Homo sapiens: one gene and its partners. The protein of the gene in region 3 purifies or fractionates together with the protein of the main gene of each other region. This does not show direct contact. Each region holds a gene or a part of one and is shown on either strand. Other genes may lie near its edges.

Region 1 (7,027 bases), on a different chromosome or scaffold from region 3:
TGAGTTTGGGGGGTGCATAGGTAAAAAAGTCCAAGAATACTTTATGCACCAATGAGTGCTTAATCACAGCTTCCCTGAAAACAGAAAAAAAAAGCAAAAAGACACAACAGATCTGGCACTACAGTCATACAAAGACAGGTAATCTCAAAGTCCTAAAGTAATCTAAACAAGTGAAATGGTTTTACTGAATACAATTTGTCATAAAATAGACTGTATTTTTCAGAAATACTAAAACTTAAACAAAAATTTAGATGGTAAAATTGATTTAGTGCCATCTACAACCAAGACCAGAGTATAAACTTCTAGTATTTAATCGGCAAACATAAAATCAACATTTGAAATATGCTCTGCTCTATTAAATAAGGACATCTACATTTTTTCCCCCAGCACTGGACATAATGATTAGAAATCCACATGTGGATGTATTTTTTTAATAGTTGTTTTATTTCTGTTAACACCCTTCACAATCCATCTGTTTCACAAAATAATTTTAGCAGAATTAAAACTTGAATGAACCAAACATTGTCAGCAATTGCAACAACACCTACTTAATCCAAACCCCCTAGTGTGACACTTGGTGGATCCAGGTGTACAGTGGAGGCCGATGGTCAGGCATAAAAGACCTAAAGTTCACAGGTGATACCCAAGTAGACAGCAAAAACTAACACTGCCTTTATGGGCAAAGCACTGTTCTGAGTGTTTTGGAACAACCAACCCATTTAATCTTCACAAAATTCCTATGAAGTCTGTACTATTATTATCCCAATTTTACAAATATGGTAATTGAGGCACAGGGAGGTTAAGTTGCCAAAGATTGCAGTTAGTAATAGTTGGGGGAGTGGGGAACCAGGAGTCGTACCCAGGCAGTCGGGTCCCAAAAGCTATGCTCAGCCACTCCACTACTGGACAGATGCCATGAAGGGCACATGCACAGGCTTCCAAGTCTTACAATCCATTTTTTAATTTTTTTTTATTTTTTTAAAGCAAGGTCTCACTCTGTTGCCTAGGCTGGAATGCAGTGGCACAACCATGGCTCACTGCAGCCATGACCTCCTGGGCTCCAGTGAGCCTCCTGCCTCTCAGCCTCCCAAGTAGCCAAGACTATACACACATGCCATAAAGCCTGGCTAATTTTCTTATTTTTTCGTAGAGATGGGGTCTTGCTATTGCCCCAGATGGTCTTGAACTCCTGGCCTCAAGTGATTCTCCCAGCTTGGTTCCCCAAAGTGCTAGAATTATAGGCGTGAGCCACTGTACCTTGCCTACAACCAAATTTGAGTAACAGATTATATTTGTGAAACTGTTTAGTATACATGGCTTCCATGTAACATTTTATTTGGGGAAAGAATGTTTCATTGCTTAAAAAAGCTCATAAATCACGAATGCATGTTAGTTATCATTTTATAGGGTACAATATCAGAAAAAGAAATCTCCTTTTGCACCAAGAATGGTTTCAAACCAACACTTTTGCACTCTTATTTAGAATAGATTAATACTTGTAAGCAGGAAATAGCTACCTCTTCTGGGCAACAGTTATGGAAAACCTTCCTCCTTTGAATGTCATTTCTTAAGAACAAAACAAAAACAACTTTCTTACTTTTGGGCCATTGGAGTTAGAATCTGTTTCATTTCATCCATAATAAGTTCTAATTTTTCTGGCTGTACCTCTAACACTTTGTCCAGAGTTCGGTGATCTGCTGACTGCAACAAAACAAAACAATCAAACCCCTCTAAATTTAATCAATTTTTTCACTTCAGGAAAAAGAAAAGTAATTAGTCATTTTAAAATAAGTTTTAACAAATTTAAGATTTCCCATATTTACATAATGAAAGCTCTGCTGTATATCCTTGTGGAGTAACCTGATTAGCTGATTCTCAGTCTGTGTATCTATCAGTGCATTTAAAGAGCCAGGCCAACCAAGTTAACCAGCTAACAGTTACTTGCCAAGCACCTAGCTCTTGCCCAATTATGAGATCAAGTAGTCACTTCACAAATTCTTGCCACCATATGTTTTATAATTAGTTGGCTATTCCTATTAAATATAACGAACTGTTAACAAAATTAGTACAGCAACAAATTCAACCCAAGAATTGAACCTGGCTAATGGAGGCAACCCGGGAATCAATCCATATCCCTTCAGACACATGTGTGCATTTATGTTCCAAGGTTTGAAATAGATTCTTTAACCAGCTAGTCCCACTGCTAACTATTCTCAGATTCAATCCCTGTACTCTATCCAAGGTTAGGTCTCTCTGTTCCCCTTCATCTCCAGACACAATCTGAAGAAGGGCAATGCATGCACATGAAAAAACACAGGAGAAGCTAGCAACAGAGAGCCCAATACACTTCAGCCAGAGCTGGTTGGGGGTGGTCACACAACTTTGCTAACTATTGGGAGTCTTGTCCTTCAGTATGACTGTAAAAATAGAAGTATTGAAGTGCTACACACAGAGCACTCAGGAGAGGAACAAAGTTTGAATTGAAGGGGATTTAAAGCCAATGCTCTGGAGAAAGAGAAACTTGCTCACTATACCAGAAACAAAATAAAGCATGAGGGAAAATCAAGGGCATAAGATGGTCTCTTAAAGAACCAGCCACAGTAAAAATACATTCAAAAGATATATAGGGCACCGGAAGTTAAGGAAGAGCATATCGAAAAGTAAAAATACTAGAAAAAGACTTCTGGAGATGTCACCTTGTAAAGCTGAAATGTGTTCCCATAGAGCTCTTCCGTCAGCATGTTCCTCTGCTCCAAAATGGCTTTGTCATTGTATGCGTACTCCACGATGGCTGATGCTTCCGCATGCCGCAGCATCTTCCTCACGTGGCCTTTAAAACTTCTGATTATCTCTGCAATCTGTGGTTTACTTCTAAACGCAACACAATCATGGAAAAATAAATGATAGAAGGAGAAAGCTGGGTGACAATAAAACACAACTTACTTCTCCCAAGACCAACTCATCAATCTGTGTCACTCTGAGGAGTAAATGAGCTAGCATGCATTGAGAAGCTGTGGCCAGCACATAGTAAATGCTCAATAAATGTCATTTCCTATTAAACTGTTCTGCTCGAAAAAAACAGTAGGGCAGGAAAAAAGATAAAAGATTCAAGGAAATAGAAAATCATATTCTAAGATTCCTTTTGAAGATGGGACTTAATCACAAGTATTTTAACTATATCCTAAAAGAATTAAACAGCTGGAAACTACAGCTAGGAATACATTTTTGAAAATTTTGTCAACTGCATATATTACACTTTTTGTTGTTGATTATCATATTCTAGCACATTAATACACTCAAAAAGATTGGTCAAGACAAGTACTAATTCCACTTAATTTAGGAAATTCTCCCATGTTGACATTTTCTAACCCACTGACCCTCTATCAGTTTACTCACCTGTCCCTCCCCAGTCTCCACCCTCTTAATACTGGTGGCTAATTATAAGTTAATTATTCTATTTCTCTTCTTCCAGAGGTTCAAGATAAACATTCACAAATCATCCATCATGTAAAATTATTTTTACTATGCTACAATACCAGTCTACTTCAAAAGTGCTTATCTGTTGCTCACTCTGTCTTTAAAACTTTTGAATGCCAACAAATCAGAAGGTGAGGGTATACCTCCATCAAAGTCATAAATTTCAAGGAGATTTGCAGGACATTTCTCATGTATCTTTTTAGGAATGAAGGCAGTACCATAATTTTACATTAATTTCGATAATTGTATTTAAGATGATACTCTCTAAAAACAACACAAGCATCTGCTGAGAGCCATTACTATTACTTATAAAGACCACAGACTTCCTATCTCGCATCTGAGCACAGTTGGAAACCATGTCTTCAAAAGACAAAGAAAAAATGTATTTTATACATAAAACAACTTACCCATACATGAGAAATTTCTTAACAATATTTCTCGAATATTTGGCTTTACTTAACTCAACCAAATCATCTGAAAAACAAAAATACATTACAGTGACTTCAGATCTCATTTCAGTTCTCTGGAAACAAAGGGAGGAAATTTGTCCCAGGCAAGGAAAAAATAAAAACAAAAAAGGATCTGGAGAAGACAAACCTAAACAAAAATTGTTTTCTAGGACAGTCTTGGGTATTTTAAGAGAAAACAAGTGACTTATTGCAAATGATAACATAATCTTTAGTATGTAATAAATACCTCGCAATTCTTCAAAAGCCTGTTTTCTCTGTTCTTCATTACCATACTGAATGTAACACTGGATCACACGAGTTGAATCGTGTGCAAATGCAATCTGCAGGAAAAAGTTTGAGTTAGACTAATTCTCTTTTGAGACTTATGTTTCTCACTAATTTATTGTGACCTCTTCTGGAATTTCTTGTTAGAAAAAAAGGTAGTCTTCATGAATAAAATCAAACCTAGATTACTGAGAACTACTTGTTTTAATTATACAAAACATCATTCTGTTGTTTTGAGGCCTACCATATTTGATAGGTACAATAATGACATTGAGGCAAGGATAAATTTAACCATTTTGCAAGACTCCTCTCATTGCAATTAAAACCAAAGCAAACCAAACCATCTGATGATTATACAGACTATACTTCTCATTTCTTTGATAAGTTACCGTCCCTAAAAGGGAAATATTTCTGTTTAAAAGGTCTGTTACTGTATGATTTTTATATAAGTGATCTAAGAATGTTTGGCTTTGGCAACCAGAAGTATACCTGTAAGATCAATCTAAAAGTCTTCCTAAAGAAATAAATACAACTATGTCCATAAACACTGTCAATTATATAATAAGTTAATCATCCATTTGTCACATTTTCATTATAATTCCTGCACATATATCCAGTTATATTTCTAGAAGAGTTGTTGTGTTTTGAATCTGATTCTCTAACCCATTCCTCCTCATGACTGTTGGAAGGACCCACTGACCAATTTTCTAGAGCGCCCTCCACGAATCATCCATCATGCAAAATTATTTTCACTACGCCACAGTACCAGTCTACTTCAAAAGTGCTTATTTGTTGCTCACTCTAAAGTTTCTGAATTCCAACAAATCAGGTGAGTGTATACTTCCATCAAAGTCATAAATTTCAAGATTTGTAAGACATCTCTTAAGTATCTCTTAAAAAAATAAGGCTGTTTTTGTGCATATATTGAGCACCTATTATATAATCAACATAAATGCCTTAAACATAGTGTTCTTATTTATAACTCAAAGCAACAATAAGAATGAGCTGTTACTATTCCCACTTTACAGATGAGGGAAGTAAGGTTATGAGAAGGAACTCGCTATCTCTATTACCCCGAGGAAGAATCTTACTTCCCTGAGTCCCAGATACATCAAATATACAACACGGATGATGACATACAGTAAACGACACAATGCATGTGCTGGTTAACACAATTCCTAGCCTATAGTAAATAATCAATAAAGAAGTTATTGTTATTGTTTAAAGGCACACATATTTTAAGCAGCCCAGCCAGGATTTGAATACCAAACTCACTTCTAACACCATGGTCATACAGCTGTGACCTCAGGGTAGTTGAGAAAGAATCCTGAGTGAAATATTTATAAATTGTCGGAGCTGAGGGGGCAGTCCTATCGTAAAAAGATCCTGCTGAATTTATAAGAAAGCGGCAGCTGATGACTTGCTACTTTCCTTCAAACTGTAATATAGCATCTGGTTAGACCTATGCATCTGACTTGACAAAGGCTGCCCCTCCAGGTGCCGTAAAACTATGAGAATCTGTTGTCTTCCAAGCCATTATGTATTAATCCAAATACACAAGAGTCACAGGAAATTTATTACAAAACAGGATTAAGCAGCAACAATGAAAACTACTTTAGAATTCTGAAATGATTATATTTTAGTTAAAGATCTTCGCATGATGTTTACAAAAGCATGGAGGAAAAGAATGAAGTAATATGTTCACATCACAAATATAAAGAAGTTGGCAATTGAGAACATACTAAATTATATGGAGTTTAGAACAACACATTTATAAAATACTACTGAACTAATAAACTTCTCAAGATAACTTTAAGGAAACACTGGCTTATTTTAAGAATTATTAAAAAATGACTGAAAAGACTGATAATCTTTTCAAAACTCCCTAGCAGTAAGGTCCCTCACTTTTAAATTTTTATGTAGTTCAGTGTTATGGAAGATATTTAAAACTTTTGGCCAAATACACCGGAAACAATGATAAGATCATCTGTCATGAATGGTCAGCTACTCCTGAGAGTGAGGCAACTTCAACTGTTAAAAATTGCAACAATGAGTATATGCTACTTACAGTTTTAATTTTCCCTTGAATCAACTTCTGCAAATCACTCATTAACTTTACTCTTTTTTCTTTGTCACAGTCTTTTCTACAAATGAGGAGAGGAAGGAAACACAGTTGAAATAAAGAAGTTATTTTAAACACACAAAATTAAAAACTGTACCAGTATATGTTCTCCAAGTTCAGCATGATTTTCTTTTCTAAGGCAGCAAACCTCTGCCATTAAAATTACTATTCCAGAGCAGCCAGACAAAAGTAATTTTCTCAAAGGCAGAAACTCATCTCAAAAGGTATAATTTTAGGTATCAATCCAAATCTTAACAGCCAGAACTTCAGAAGTAAAAAAAATAATAAAACAAATCTAAGATAACAAATACTGAAGTATCTCAAAATCTAGCTGATAAGAAATTGTCCTTCATTTTCTCAGAAATCTCTCAGGAAGAATGTCAAATTTATTTCAACCTCATACATTTTCATAAGCATATCCGATGCCATCATAATGATTCTACACACTTCTGTGACGGGCAGACTTCCAAGTACTGATGTCTCTAATGGGGTGTCATGAGGACCCCCTCAATAACCCAAGTGCTATGTCATTTATTTTAGGACATCTCACTATTTACAAGGTACACTGACTTCTCCACTGTTGCAAAGGGACTAACAAAGGCATCTTTAGGTAGAATTACCTTCTTAAAATCTCCCACATCTGCTTTGCCCGAACAACAATGTCATAGTTGGTTTTATCACTGAGTTGTCTGCT
Region 2 (7,439 bases), on a different chromosome or scaffold from region 3:
TTGCTCTGTCACCCAGGCTGGAGTGCAGTGGCACGATCTCAGCTCACTGTAACCTCAGCCTCCTGGGTTCAAGCGATTCTCCTGCCTCAGCCTCCCCTGTAGCTGGCATTACAGGCACCCGCCACCATGCCCAGCTAATTTTTGTATTTTTAGTAGAGACAGGGTTTCATCATGTTGGCCAGGCTGGTCTTGAACTCCTGACCTCAGGTGATCCACTCACCTCAGCCTCCCAAAGTACTGGGATTACAGGTGTGAGCCACCACGCCTGGCTTCTGGGTTGAAATTTAAGCAACATTTGAGTAGTTACCATAGGCTTGAATTCCTGGCCCCAAGCTATCCTCCATACTCACCTCCAAAAGTGCTCGGATTATAGGTTTGAGCCACCATGACTGGCCTGAGGAACATTTGAGTACTTACTATGTGCCAGGCATTGTGCTGGATGCTGTTTTTTTTTTTCAATTCTTTTTTTTTTTCCCCTCTGCAGCCTTGACCTCCCTGGGCTCAAATGATTTGCCCACCTCAGCCTCCTGAGTATCTGGGACCAGAGGTGCAAGCCACCATGCCCGGCTAATTTTTTTGTGTTTTTTTGTAGAGACAAGGTTTCACTATGTTGCCCAGGCTGGTCTTGAACTCCTCGGCTCAAGCGATCCACCTGCCTTGGCCTCCCAAAGTGTGGGATTATTCAAAGGCATGAGCCACTGCACCCTGCCCCATTCGCTTTTTACACAAATATCTCATTTGATCCTTACATCAGTTTTTTAAGGTAGATAATACAATTTGTATGATGATGAAATTAAAGGTTTAGGTATATCTTTGAGTTTTTCATTTTATTATTCCCCTATACTTCAAACATTTCATTTCTTACTTTAAGTCCCTAAAGTTGCTAAGTGTAAGATAACTTAAAAATACACTGCCATTAGGCCTGGCTCAGTGGCTCACACCTGTAATCCCCAGACTTTGGAAGGCCAAGGTGGGTGGATCACTTGAGGTCAGGAGTTTGAGACCAGCCTGGCCAACAGGGTGAAACCCCATCTCTACTAAAAATACAAAAATTACCCAGGCATGTTGGCTGGCGCCTGTAATCCCAGCTACTCAGGAGGCTGAGGCAGGAGAATCGCTTGAACCCGGGAGGCGGAGGTTGCAGTGGGCCGAGATCGCGCCACTGCACTCCAGCCTGGGCGACAGAGCAAGACTCTGTCTCAGACAAAAAACAAACAAACAAAAAGACACTACCATCAAAAAGAAAAGTCATAAAGTCACATGTTGCTGAAATGATAAAGAACCAACATCATCAACATGCACATCTTTTGAAAGCATCCAGAAATAGCCTTCATTAGTTGTGAAAAATTTTCTCATCCTCCTTCTTTGGGGTGGGGTAGGGGGAACAAGTTTGAAGAAGAAAGATAAATAATAATGTTTACTTACCTACTTAGTTTTTCAGGATTGTTTATTTTTTCTAAGATTTTCAAACATAATCTCTTGGTAAATTGAAGGATTTCTGGACCGACATAGAGGTATAACTAGATGTAATACAATAATGTTATAAGTAACGGTGCTATATTTTTGTGAAATTAAAATTTCCTGACTTCATTTAATGGGATGGAGTGGATGACAAAAAGTCATAGACAAATGATATTATATACTAAATTATCAAAGCCTATATATAACCAGGGTCCTACATTCTATTATTACCATTATTAAATTTGTAAGTGCTCTTCAAATTTAAAGTGTTATTAGTATTCTGTTATCATTTAAGCTTTAGATTACTACAATCCCTTTATAATCTATTACTAAACTGGTCAAGATGCTGCCTAACATTTAAAAAAAGACCATGTATTTGCATATATTATAATATACTCTAAAATCCAAGTATTCATTTCTATACTTAAAACATCTTTCTTTTCATTCAACTTTATTTTTGTTCCCAGGTTTTGCAAACCGTTTTTCAAAACCCAAAGGACCAAGGAATCCACCACCAACTTGGAATATTTAATAAAACTCCAGATTTATAATAATATGGGCTGCAAGTACACCTGCAAATAAAACTACTAGAATACTGCTAGTTAAAATAAGTGCTCTATATGCATAATATCAAATATGAAGATATGCTAATGTGTTAATAGCTTTTAAAAGAAAAGCAAAATGCCAATAAGTGCCAGTTTTGCATTTTCATATCATTTGCATTGAGTTGAAAACTGCAAATAAAAGTTTGTCACTTGAGCTTATGTACAGAATGCTATATGAGAAACACTTTTAGAATGGATTTATTTTTCATTTTTGCCAGTTATTTTTATTTTCTTTTACTTTTCTACATAAACATAAACTTCAAAAGGTTTGTAAGATTTGGATCTCAACTAATTTCTACATTGCCAGAATATACTATAAAAAGTTAAAAAAAAAACTTACTTTGTGGGTTGCAATACAAACTGCTCTTGACAATGACTATTCCCTGACAGTTATTTTTGCCTAAATGGAGTATACCTTGTAAATCTTCCCAAATGTTGTGGAAAACTGGAATATTAAGAAAATGAGAAATTATATTTATTAGAATAAAATGTGCAAATAATGACAATTATTTGAATGTAACAAGGAATTCAACTGAAATCCTGATAAGTTTTAACCAAAGTCATTAAATTACCAATTCTAGAAAAGTAATCAATGAAATATAATAGCTATCTTTTGGTAGCAAAAGATATAAATTGTATATGTTTATACAGGATCTTTCAGATCATGTGCAATTTTTATCTAACCAATCAGAAATACTAGTTTAAAATGAATTTCTATATGAATATGGATCTGCCATAAGAAAATCTAGTTCAACTCTAATTTTATGTAGTAAATAAATTGGCAGGTAATTGTTTTTACAAAGAATCCACCTGACTTCCCCTAATGCATTAAAAATATTTTTATTTAAATAACTTTATTTATAACTTTTAGAAACATGTAGTATTGTTTAAACATCATTTGTTCTTCAGTATTTTTCATTTGGAAGTCCAATAGGGCAAATTGAATGAAGTATTATTATCTGTCTCTTGTAGTACAATGTATCCAACAGACACTCAATAAACTTTTTGGTTGTTAAACTGACTTCATTGCAGTAGTGTTTAGGTAATACTTCTCCAGAAACTAGTGAAATCAAACCACAGTAATTTTATCTGCTGAGTATATATCATTGTAATCAATTACTTCCAAATGTCTTTATCAATAAACAAATATACTAAAAGAATTCTAGGTAACCATGAGTTACTTAGGGCACCATGAGTGCATCTGTAGACCCAGCTACTCATTCCTTGAGCCCAGGAGTTGGAGGCCAGCCTGGTCAACAGAGCGAGACCTTGTCTCTTTTTTTTAAGAGTCAGGGTCTAGATCTGTCACCCAGGCCAGAGTGCAGTGGTGCGACCACTCCTCCCACCTTAGCCTCACGAGTACCTGGGACTACAGGCGCGTGTCACGACACCCAGATAATTTAAAAAATACTTTTGTAGGGACAGAGGCTCACTATGTTACCAACGCTGATCTGGAACTCCTGGCCTCATGCAATCCTCCCGCCTCGGCCTCCCAAAGCTCTGGGATTACCGGCCTGAGACACCGAGCCCCGCCCCGCCCGTCTCTAAATAAATACTTAAAAGAACCCCAGGTAAAAGCTAAAGCGAGGATGAAATTCTAAATGAATTTCTGAGCAACAACTATCCGTAGTGAGCAGTGATGATTTTTGGTGTGTTCTCCGGTAGGCACACTTTTCAAATTTATGCAATCTTATCCTTAAGATTTGAAAAAAAAAAACTTATAAAAAATCTTAAACGTGGTTTTCCATCTACAATTTTTCGCAACTGTAGGGATATATTCAAAATAAATGCTGGACATTTCCAGGCATTAGAGGGGATGTGGCCGGATGGCGAGGAGGGGCCGTCCTCACCAGGACTCCAAGCAGTTCTCGCACCTGACTTCGTAGGCCTGTAGTTGTAACCATAGCAATGCCCCAGATGCTTGAAAACATTTCTGAATTGCGGCCCTATCATATTTTTACAGCAAAACCACCCTTATTTTACATATTACTAAATCCTCTTTTCACCTTCATTTCATCCCTCGTCAAAGTTAAAAGGATGAAGATTCTTTTATCTCACAAAGGTTATGAGAGAAATATTAAATTTAAAATCACTGTGGAGACCACCTCCTCCGTGTAAAATGAGGAAGGGTCACAGGAAGATGATAATGGGAACGCGCCGCCAGACTCTGAAAGCCATTAACATTGTTTCGGCCGTTAGGGCGGTTGGCGGCAACTCACCGCCCAGCGGCGGTTGCGTCGCAGCCAGAAGCGTGACTTCGCGCACGCTCCCTTTCCACTCCTCCACTCAGAGCCGGGGACGCGGCGGGGGCGCGGCGGAACTACAGCTCCCATGACGCTTTGCGCGGCATAGGGTGCTTTACAATAGAAGCTCGGTTGGAGAGGCCTGCGGAGAAAAGCTGGGAACGGCCGCTTCCGGCATGTTCATCTCTGGACGAAGAACGGCCGACAAGTGGAGGGCGGAGGAGAGACTCCAATGCCCAGCGGGCAGTGCGCGGGCGGCGCTTGCGCGATGCGCGGACGGGGGGGCGGTCGGGCCATTTAAATGTGTGTTTGTGGGTGAAATGGCTGCGCAGGTCGGAGCGGTGCGCGTAGTACGGGCGGTGGCGGCGCAGGAGGAGCCGGACAAAGAGGGGAAGGAGAAACCTCATGCTGGGGTCTCCCCGCGGGGAGTTAAACGGCAGCGCCGATCTAGCAGTGGGGGGTCTCAGGAGAAGCGGGGGCGGCCGAGCCAGGAGCCCCCTCTCGCTCCCCCTCACCGGCGGCGTCGCAGCCGCCAACATCCTGGGCCGCTGCCGCCAACGAATGCAGCCCCAACTGTCCCAGGCCCTGTTGAGCCTCTTCTCCTGCCGCCTCCGCCGCCACCTTCGCTGGCACCCGCCGGGCCCGCTGTCGCTGCCCCTCTCCCGGCCCCAAGCACCTCGGCCCTCTTCACCTTCTCGCCTCTGACGGTGAGCGCGGCCGGGCCCAAGCATAAGGGCCACAAGGAGCGGCACAAGCACCATCACCACCGCGGCCCCGATGGTGATCCCAGCTCCTGCGGAACCGATCTCAAGCACAAGGACAAGCAGGAAAACGGCGAGAGGACTGGAGGGGTGCCTCTGATCAAAGCCCCCAAGAGAGGTGAGAGCAGGCAAACTGCCCGGCTTGGGTTCTAGGTCTCTCTCAGTTCCGATATCCCGCATCTTTAGGACTGAAAGACGCCAAACCCCTGCTTACCTTCTGCTGCTGTACTTCTCTAAGCTCACTGGGGTGGACCCTGGATTTCAGATCGTTGACACGGTTTGATCTAACTACTTGAGGCTTCTCGCTCCGAGGCCGAGCTGTCAGTTGCTAATCCCTTTACCGGTCCCCCGGAGCCTCTCAGCATTTGTTTTCAAATTCTGCAAGGTTTCCGCGCCGCGTTAGATTAGTAGGTGGGGTACTAAAAAATGCCTTTCCAAAGAAAAGGCATGTTCCTAAAATCCCTTCTCCTTGTTTTGCTTGCTGGAGAGCTTTAGTTATCTGCTCTCCCTTGCTCCAGAATAGTCAGGGGTATGGTTCCAGTCTTTCAGGAGGGAATTCATATAAAGGTTACACGACTCACTGGTTGACTTAGCTTCTGCAAGGTAAAATATCAGACGCAGTTTATCTTGGTTCTTTTTAATCTAGAGGTAAAAATCATTTTAAAGTTTTCATATTAGCTATTTAAATTCTTAGAATAGGCATGTGGAAGGTTTTCTCTACCCTTTGATACTAGGAAATAGGACCAACAGTGCCTCTGAAAAGTGGGAATTTGTGCAGTAGATAGTAGAGGCCGGAATTTCAGTTGCATTTGATTCTGTCTAGCACACTTTGTGGATCTGTTAATTCCAATAGCCCTCAAGAATATTTTACTAGAAAATGTCAGAGTATCCAATTAAATGTGGATTCTAGAAAAATTAGATTGGCCAGAACTGATGTCTTCCTGTTCCCAAGTACCTGTAGCATTTATTTATATTCTTTGTGGAAGAAATGTGATGCTTTTGATTATGCCGTATGTTTGTACTTTATATATTATTTTATATAATTTACTAGTTGTTTTTCCTCAGGAATATTTGAAATACTTGTTTCTTAGTACTGGACCAGTTAGGTTATTACATGTTAATGAGACAATCTTTCAACCTAAAGTTTTGTGAGTCTTGCATTCTTTCCACGTATTGAGTCTTAAGGCTAATCATTTTTTTTGGTGGTGCTATTTCCGAATACTGTAGTTCGTTGCAAATAATTGCTCAATAAGTATTTATTGAATAGCATTAAATTTTTATTCATTTGGTGGCATCCAAATCTTGGGAGTAGAACTTGTGGCAAGATGACAGGACTGCCAGTTTTCACCACCAATATGCAATGATCTTGCTCTCTTTTTATTTTTACTTTTATTCCCTACTTTCTCATTTCTTGTGTGTGTGTGTGTGTGTGTGTGTGTGTGTTTTAACTGTACAGAACTAGAGGGAATTAGTGATCCTCTGGCTTAAATTTGTATTGTAGAAAAGGAAACTGAGGCCCAAAGTAGTAAAGAGGCCTGTTCAATCAAATCACAGTTAATTCGCATGAAGTGCAAAAAAATTAAATATTTTTTAAAAAGGTGAATATTGGCATAACAGGCAGTAGAACCCAGGCTCCTGAATCCTGCTTCAAGCTTCATCTCCAGGCTTCATGATGTTGCTTTCTCTTCCTGCTATTCATTTTTTCCACTCCTTTGTTTACCTTTTCCCTGTGCTTTGACATTACAGTGGCTTTATATCATCGAGGATCTCTGACCTGGCCCCGTTTTATGGGGGATAGTGGCAATAACATGTGTAATAATTTACAATCTTTCTCTGAAGATTGCACAGGCCCCATGTTCTTTAAAAAACACACTTCTGACCTAATGCTGACTGATAGAACTTTCTCAGATGATGGAAATTTTCTGTATTTGTGCTGACCAATATGGTAGCCGTATGTGGTTCCTGAACAGACTTGAAATGTGGCATGATTGAGGAACTGAAATTTTGATTTTATTTAATTCTAATTAATTTATAATTAGTCACATATGGCTAGTGGCTACCACACTGGACAACACCACTCTAAATATCTGTAGTTTGCCAACATGTGAAGAAGAGAAGTGGGTTAAGATAAGCCCATTTAAACATTTTAACTTTTGGCTGAGAGATTGTTGGATTATATACCCAAACTATATTTTGGGTGAAAAAGAATTTTTTGGTCAAATACATTTGAGAAAAACTGTGTACTGTAGCCTTCTACATATGTAACATGAATTGGCAAACTGGCATTTTAAAAGTTTTGAAAACCCTACAGAAAATAAACTGGTTTAACTTTGTTTAATCCAGGCTTTTGCACATAGTTTGACTGATAT
Region 3 (5,811 bases):
GTAGTCTCCAACCTTTTTGACACAAGAGACCGTTTTGTGTAAGACAATTATACCACGGACCAGGGGGTGCAGGGGCTGGGAGCAATGATTTCCGGACTAAAACTGCTCCAACCTCAGATCATCAGGCATTAGATTGTCACAAGGAGCCTGAAACCTAGATCCCTTGCATGTGCCATTCACAATACAGTTTGAGCTTATGAGAATCTATCTAATGCTGCAGCTAACCTGACAGGCGGTGGAGCTCAGTTGGTTAATGTTCGCTCACCCCTCAGCTGTGCGGCTCAATTCATAACGTGCCATGGACAGGGACCGGTTACCGGTCGGTGGCCGGGGAAATGAGGACCCCTGGTATAGATGGTAGTCTGGCTATGTTGCCCAGGATGGTCTTGAAGCCTGGCCTGAATTAATTCTCCAATCTCAAGCCTTTTCAACTCAGCTGCATCACAACTTAAACCTATAGATAACTGTCACAGAAACTTGTTTCCAGTGTTACGCCATCTTAAAATAATGTGGGTGGCTCTTAAAAGAGCCTTTGGGTTCTTTCCAAATTGGCCTCCCGGAAAGCTCTTTACTTCTTAGATGTGGCCTTTCTAACATTAACTTCATGATGTTGGGTCAATTTTGACTTCGAAGCCCTTGCCTTCACTGGGCTCTTCTGCTGTTGCTTACCCTTGGCTCCTTTAGCCTTTCTCCCGCTCCTAACAGTTTTAGGAGTTGTCGCTCTCGGCTTCTTGGCTCTCTTATTGGTTTTAGCAGTCTTTGGTGACTTGGAGTCCCTGGATAAAACCAGCTTCTTGGTCTTGGCAGAAACTGACTTTTTAGCCTTGCTTCTGGTAGATTTAGGAATCACCTTCTTACTAAGCTTAAAGGAACCGGAAGCACCAGTACCCCTGGTTTGCACCAGGATTCCCTTGTTCACTAAGCTCTTGAGGGACAGTTTGATGCGGCTGTTATTCTTCTCTACGTCGTAGCCAGCAGCGGCCAATGCCTTCTTGAGCGCAACCAAAGACATACCTACTCGTTCCTGTGACACTGAAAGGGCCTCGGTGATCAACTTGGACACAGAGAGGTTCGGCACTTTGCGACTTGCACTTATCAAGCCAGCCGGCTTCCTCCCTCGCTTCTTGGTTGGAAGTTTCTCCATAGCGGCTACACCAGCACTGGCAGAAGCTGCAGGCACGGTTTCAGACATAACAACAGAGAAACGCAAGATGTAATAACCAGCGAAAAGCATGAAACACCCGGGCGGCCTCGGGGCCTTATATAGGGTAGGGCGCGCTGTGATTGGTGCATCACCTAGGCACCGCCCCCGCCCCTTGGAGGAGGAGTATTTGTGTTTGTTTTACCCGGAAAAGTTGAGTATAACAAAACCCCTCTTTACAGAATCTCCCAGGGTCTAGTGCTGAATAATCTGCGGAAATTCATATTTGACATGACTTTTCTCTTTTTAATGAAAAATGACCCTGGATGCCAAAACTATTCGAGAAAGCCCTCGATTTTCAATCAAATTCACGGAGAGGAACAAAACTTCCCCTTTTCCTTGTAAATTAATAAGTAATCTTTGGCAGAAGACTTATTTCATCTCTTCAGAGTGGTCTTCCAAATGGATAGCTTCAAATCGGTAGAGGAAAGAAATTATTCACGCCATGATTTTTATTTAAAATTATTTATATATGTGAGGGAAGTAACACAGATCTCTTAGCTGTCTAATTGCGGAGTCAGAAGATGCTTATAGAATTGTCAAAAGACTGCAGAGGATGTCTTTATTTAGGCATGTGCAATCTAATAAATCATAATCCACAGGAACATGGGTTGTCTGTAATTAAAGGTGCTCCCAAGTCCCTGTAGCTTTATAGAGGACTCTCAAGGATGGGGTAATATCAAGATCTCACACATTATGTAAGATTGGCCATAATCAGGCCACTCTCATGACCGGTGTCCTCAACTGAGTTTTGCTTCTGGTTTCATTAATTGAAGTCCCCTCTATCCCCCTGCCCACCCCTACATCCCCAGATAAACAGACACAGTCCCTCCCCTAAATTAACTATAAAACATGAGGTAGGAACCCTAGACTCAAGAACCTACTAGAAACTACAGACCCCATGTCTAACAAGACTGGGCGGGTTGGCTGGGCGCAGTGATTCATGCCTGTAATTACAGCACTTCGGAAGGCTGGAGGCCAGGAGTTCAAGACTAGGTTGGCCTGGTCCCTACTGAAAAAAAAAAAAATTAGCTGGGTGTGGTGGCACATGCCTGCAGTCCCAGCTTCTGGGTAGACTGAAGAGGATCACTTAGAGCCCAGGAGCTTGAGGTCGCAGCTACTGCACTCCAGCCTGGGCAGACCCTCATCTCTGAATTGCTTAATTAATTAACTGAGCTGGCAGATTTGGCTGCATAGCTGTGGGGAAAGGGTTGTTGGAATAATGTCCAGTGTGCTCCCCTGAGCTTCTACTGGAACAGGTCTTTGTGAGAGGCCTGGAGATAAGAGCTTGCTCACAAAGGCTGAGGCCTTTCTGGGATGCTGAATGAGTTTAGTGTGGCCAGAGCATAGGGTCTCAGCAAAGGAAAACTCCATAAGGGCCATTTGTGAAGATCCCCAAATACTTGTGTGAAACATTTGGTAGATATTAGAAGTTTTGTTTTGGTTTGGTTTGAGACAGAGTTTTGCTCTTGTTGCCCAGGCTGGAGTGCAATGGTGTGATCTTGGCTCAGTGCAACCTCCACCTCCCAGGTTCAGGCAATTCTCCTGCCTCAGCCTCCCAATTAGCTGGGATTATAGGCGCCCACCACCATGCCTGGCTAATTTTTTGTATTTTTAGTAGAGATGGGGTTTCATCATGTTGGCCAGGCTAGTCTCGAACTCCCCACCTCAAGTGATCTGCCCGCCTCTGCCTCCAAAGTGCTGGGAATACATGCGTGAGCCGCCGCGCCCGGCAGACATTGGAAGTTTTTAAGCAGAGAATTTGTTGTATTGTTGTAGTTGTCTTGGGTTTAGATTTATTGCATAAACAATCATTTTTGAGAAGGGCCCACAGTCAGAAGTTGGGAGTCTGTTGCAATAGTCTCAGAAGAATGGCAAAGACCTTGCCTAAGGGGACAGTGTGGTAAAGGAGAGAGTCTACATTTGAAATATTTCTGAAACAAAAGCCAAAAGATAAGACTTCAAACTTCTGATTGCAAAGTGAGATAGAAAAGTTTCTTTCTCTCTGTCTCTCTGTTATACCCATACACACACACATATGCACAAACACCTGAAAGAAAAAAAAATTCAGGGAACAGGCCAGGTAGGGTGGCTCATGCCTATAATCCCATAAATTTGGGAGGCTGAGGCTAGTGGATCACTAGAGCCCAGGAGTTCACAAGGCCAGCCTAAGCACATAGCAAGACCCTGTCTCTACAATTAAAAAATTACCCGGGTGTGGTGGCACGTACCTGTGGTCCCAGTTACTCAAAAGGCTGAGGTGGGAGAATCACTTGGGCCCAGGAGGTCAAGGCTGCAGTGAGCATGATTGTGCCACTGCACTTCAGCCTGGGCAAGAGCGAGACCCTGTCTCAAAAAAAAAAAATTTTTTTTTTTTTTCCAGAAAACAATACTATCTTAAGCACCAGCACTTTAGTATATTCTACTGTGGACTAGTTCATTTTTAAAAGAACACTAGGTTGGAAATCATGAGATTGATTCCACAACTCACTAAAGCACCGTGTCACTCAGTTTGGAAAATATTTCTCCTTAGAGAGATTACAGGTGCATCTTTCTGAGCACCTGTATGTTTTTACATTTGTTTGGCTTCTCTGACCTTTGATAATTTCTGAGTGTTGTACTATTAAATATTAGTGGCTAGGGGTCAAATTGTGGATCAGGTTGATCCTTATATTTACAAGTTGACAGATACGTTACTCCATTGCTTTAAAACTAACACAGAATTAGAGAATTTAGAAAATTCTTACATTCCATAATTTAAGACCCAGAAAAAAAAGATTCATATTTTGCATTAGATAGCTAAAATGGTACCATAAAAACAAATGATATCCACATATATATAGTATATAGTGCTTCTTCTGTGCCAGTCACTATCCTAAGTTTTTCTCTCCCTTCCCCAAAAATGTAGGAATTAACTTTATAGATGAAGAAACTGAGGCACAGGAATGTCACATGACTTGCCCAAAGGAAATTCAGTCTTCCTTTTTCAATTCTTTTTTCTTTTTACTTTGCTGCAGGGTCTCGCTGTGTTGCCCAGGATGCTCTTGAACTCCCGGACTCAAGCGATCCTCCTTCTTCAGCCTCTCAAAGTGCTGGGATTACAGGCATGAGCCACTGCGCCCAGTCAGGAAATTCAGTCTTCTAAACATTCATTATTGAAATAATATTTCCATAAACATTTTCTTAGATAAACTTTGGCATCTCTAACTTCTAAGTAGCAAAGTCATGGAAACAGTCACAGAGAAAATAACTTTATTTTAAAAATAATAAATTCTTATCTCCGGTGATAAGAAAAGTATACAGCCCATTTTTTAAAGTATTAATTTTACATTCTAATTTGGTTTTTTTAATGTTTACCATATATTTCTCTTTCTACATATGTGTGTGAGTGAATAAAATAAAGGCATCTACAGATTTTTACATGTTCAGTGAGATTAGCAGGGTTTCACTTGACAGCACTCTTACCATACTCACTTCTTGGCTTTTCCTGATATCTAACATTTTTAAAATGAGTAGTCCCTTTTCATATGATTCTTCCTTTTTCAAGCACTATTTTTGAACTTTATATTTGATTGGCAATAATTTTTACAGACATTATTTTACGATTAACTTTAACTCTGTTCAAATGATTTCTTCATTTTCAAGTATTTTATTTGAACTGCTTTTTTTGGTTCAACTACTGAGTATTTAATTTGTCTGTTTTGTAGAAAGGGTATGTAGATAATTCCATGTTTTGTAAAAGTTGTCTCTAAAAATCTAACAAGTGTAAGTACGATGCTATTACAGGGCTGAGAGACACAGAAAAAACACACACACACACACAAAATTTTTTTTTAAGTATTACTTGGTCTCTAAACTAAAGAATTTACCATCTATTTTGGGAGATGAAATCCAAACATAAGCAATGACAACAATTATTATGTGCTTAAATCAATGTCCAAGACAATAATTGACCCCAAGGCAGGGAAATCACTGAGAGAGTATAGCAGAGAAGGTGTCCTCTCTGTTCAGATGAGCCTGAATAATTTGTTCAGTAGGTTTCTGCTACTCATTTATAAACTGCACATCTTCTGTAGTCCTGGAAAATGTCTAAGAGGAGAGAGGAACTAAGATCAGGGCCACCATTTAATTAGGAAGTTCTGGGAGTACCTGACCCAGAAGAAAGATCAGCATAGCTGAAAATCACCCATAGGAGAAACATCTAGGTAATCTTATTTCTGTTCCACCTGACATTTCAACCTCTCTTTTCAGCTATAAGTATATAAGTACTTATATGTAAGTAAAGAAATTTACCCACATCATGTTGTTTTTTATTCAATGCTTAACATGTATAATGCTAACAACACAGACTTGATGTCCAAAACATTTCTATGAACAGCTCATTACTGGATGACTGAAATAATTTTTCCAAGCCACGTGGAGGTTAATGAGTCAGTTTTTGAAAGCAAGGAGAGAAAAACATTAGAATTTAAGGTGACGTTTCTGTTGCGTTGTAATCCAGAATACAGAATAGTCAGAGAAAAGCAGAAAGTCTTTCTTCTTAAATTTTCTGAAAACCAAGGTGTGCATTAAAATGGTACATGCCTACTTCCCTTTCCCTTTACCCTTTT

Evidence for each region. The genes of interacting proteins can lie anywhere in the genome.
Region 1: the proteins of H1-6 (region 3) and PUM3 purify together in Homo sapiens (affinity purification with mass spectrometry; 2 studies listed by BioGRID and IntAct, with this or other methods). This does not show direct contact.
Region 2: the proteins of H1-6 (region 3) and RSBN1 purify together in Homo sapiens (affinity purification with mass spectrometry; 2 studies listed by BioGRID and IntAct, with this or other methods). This does not show direct contact.

What each region holds. Positions count from the first base shown.
Region 1 is NC_000009.12:2,827,078-2,834,104, forward strand, and holds part of PUM3 (pumilio homolog 3), read right to left. Parts: coding exon 6,954-7,027; intron 6,356-6,953; coding exon 6,280-6,355; intron 4,268-6,279; coding exon 4,174-4,267; intron 3,952-4,173; coding exon 3,885-3,951; intron 2,872-3,884; coding exon 2,697-2,871; intron 1,702-2,696; coding exon 1,598-1,701; intron 75-1,597; coding exon 1-74. UniProt on the Homo sapiens protein: Inhibits the poly(ADP-ribosyl)ation activity of PARP1 and the degradation of PARP1 by CASP3 following genotoxic stress. Binds to double-stranded RNA or DNA without sequence specificity. Involved in development of the eye and of primordial germ cells.
Region 2 is NC_000001.11:113,809,459-113,816,897, reverse strand, and holds the start of RSBN1 (lysine-specific demethylase 9), read left to right. Parts: upstream 1-4,421; 5' UTR 4,422-4,485; coding exon 4,486-5,188; intron 5,189-7,439. Other genes in the region: PTPN22 (tyrosine-protein phosphatase non-receptor type 22), read left to right, coding at 1,929-1,993. UniProt on the Homo sapiens protein: Histone demethylase that specifically demethylates dimethylated 'Lys-20' of histone H4 (H4K20me2), thereby modulating chromosome architecture.
Region 3 is NC_000006.12:26,106,902-26,112,712, forward strand, and holds H1-6 (histone H1t), read right to left. Parts: upstream 1,235-5,811; 5' UTR 1,193-1,234; coding exon 569-1,192; 3' UTR 511-568; downstream 1-510.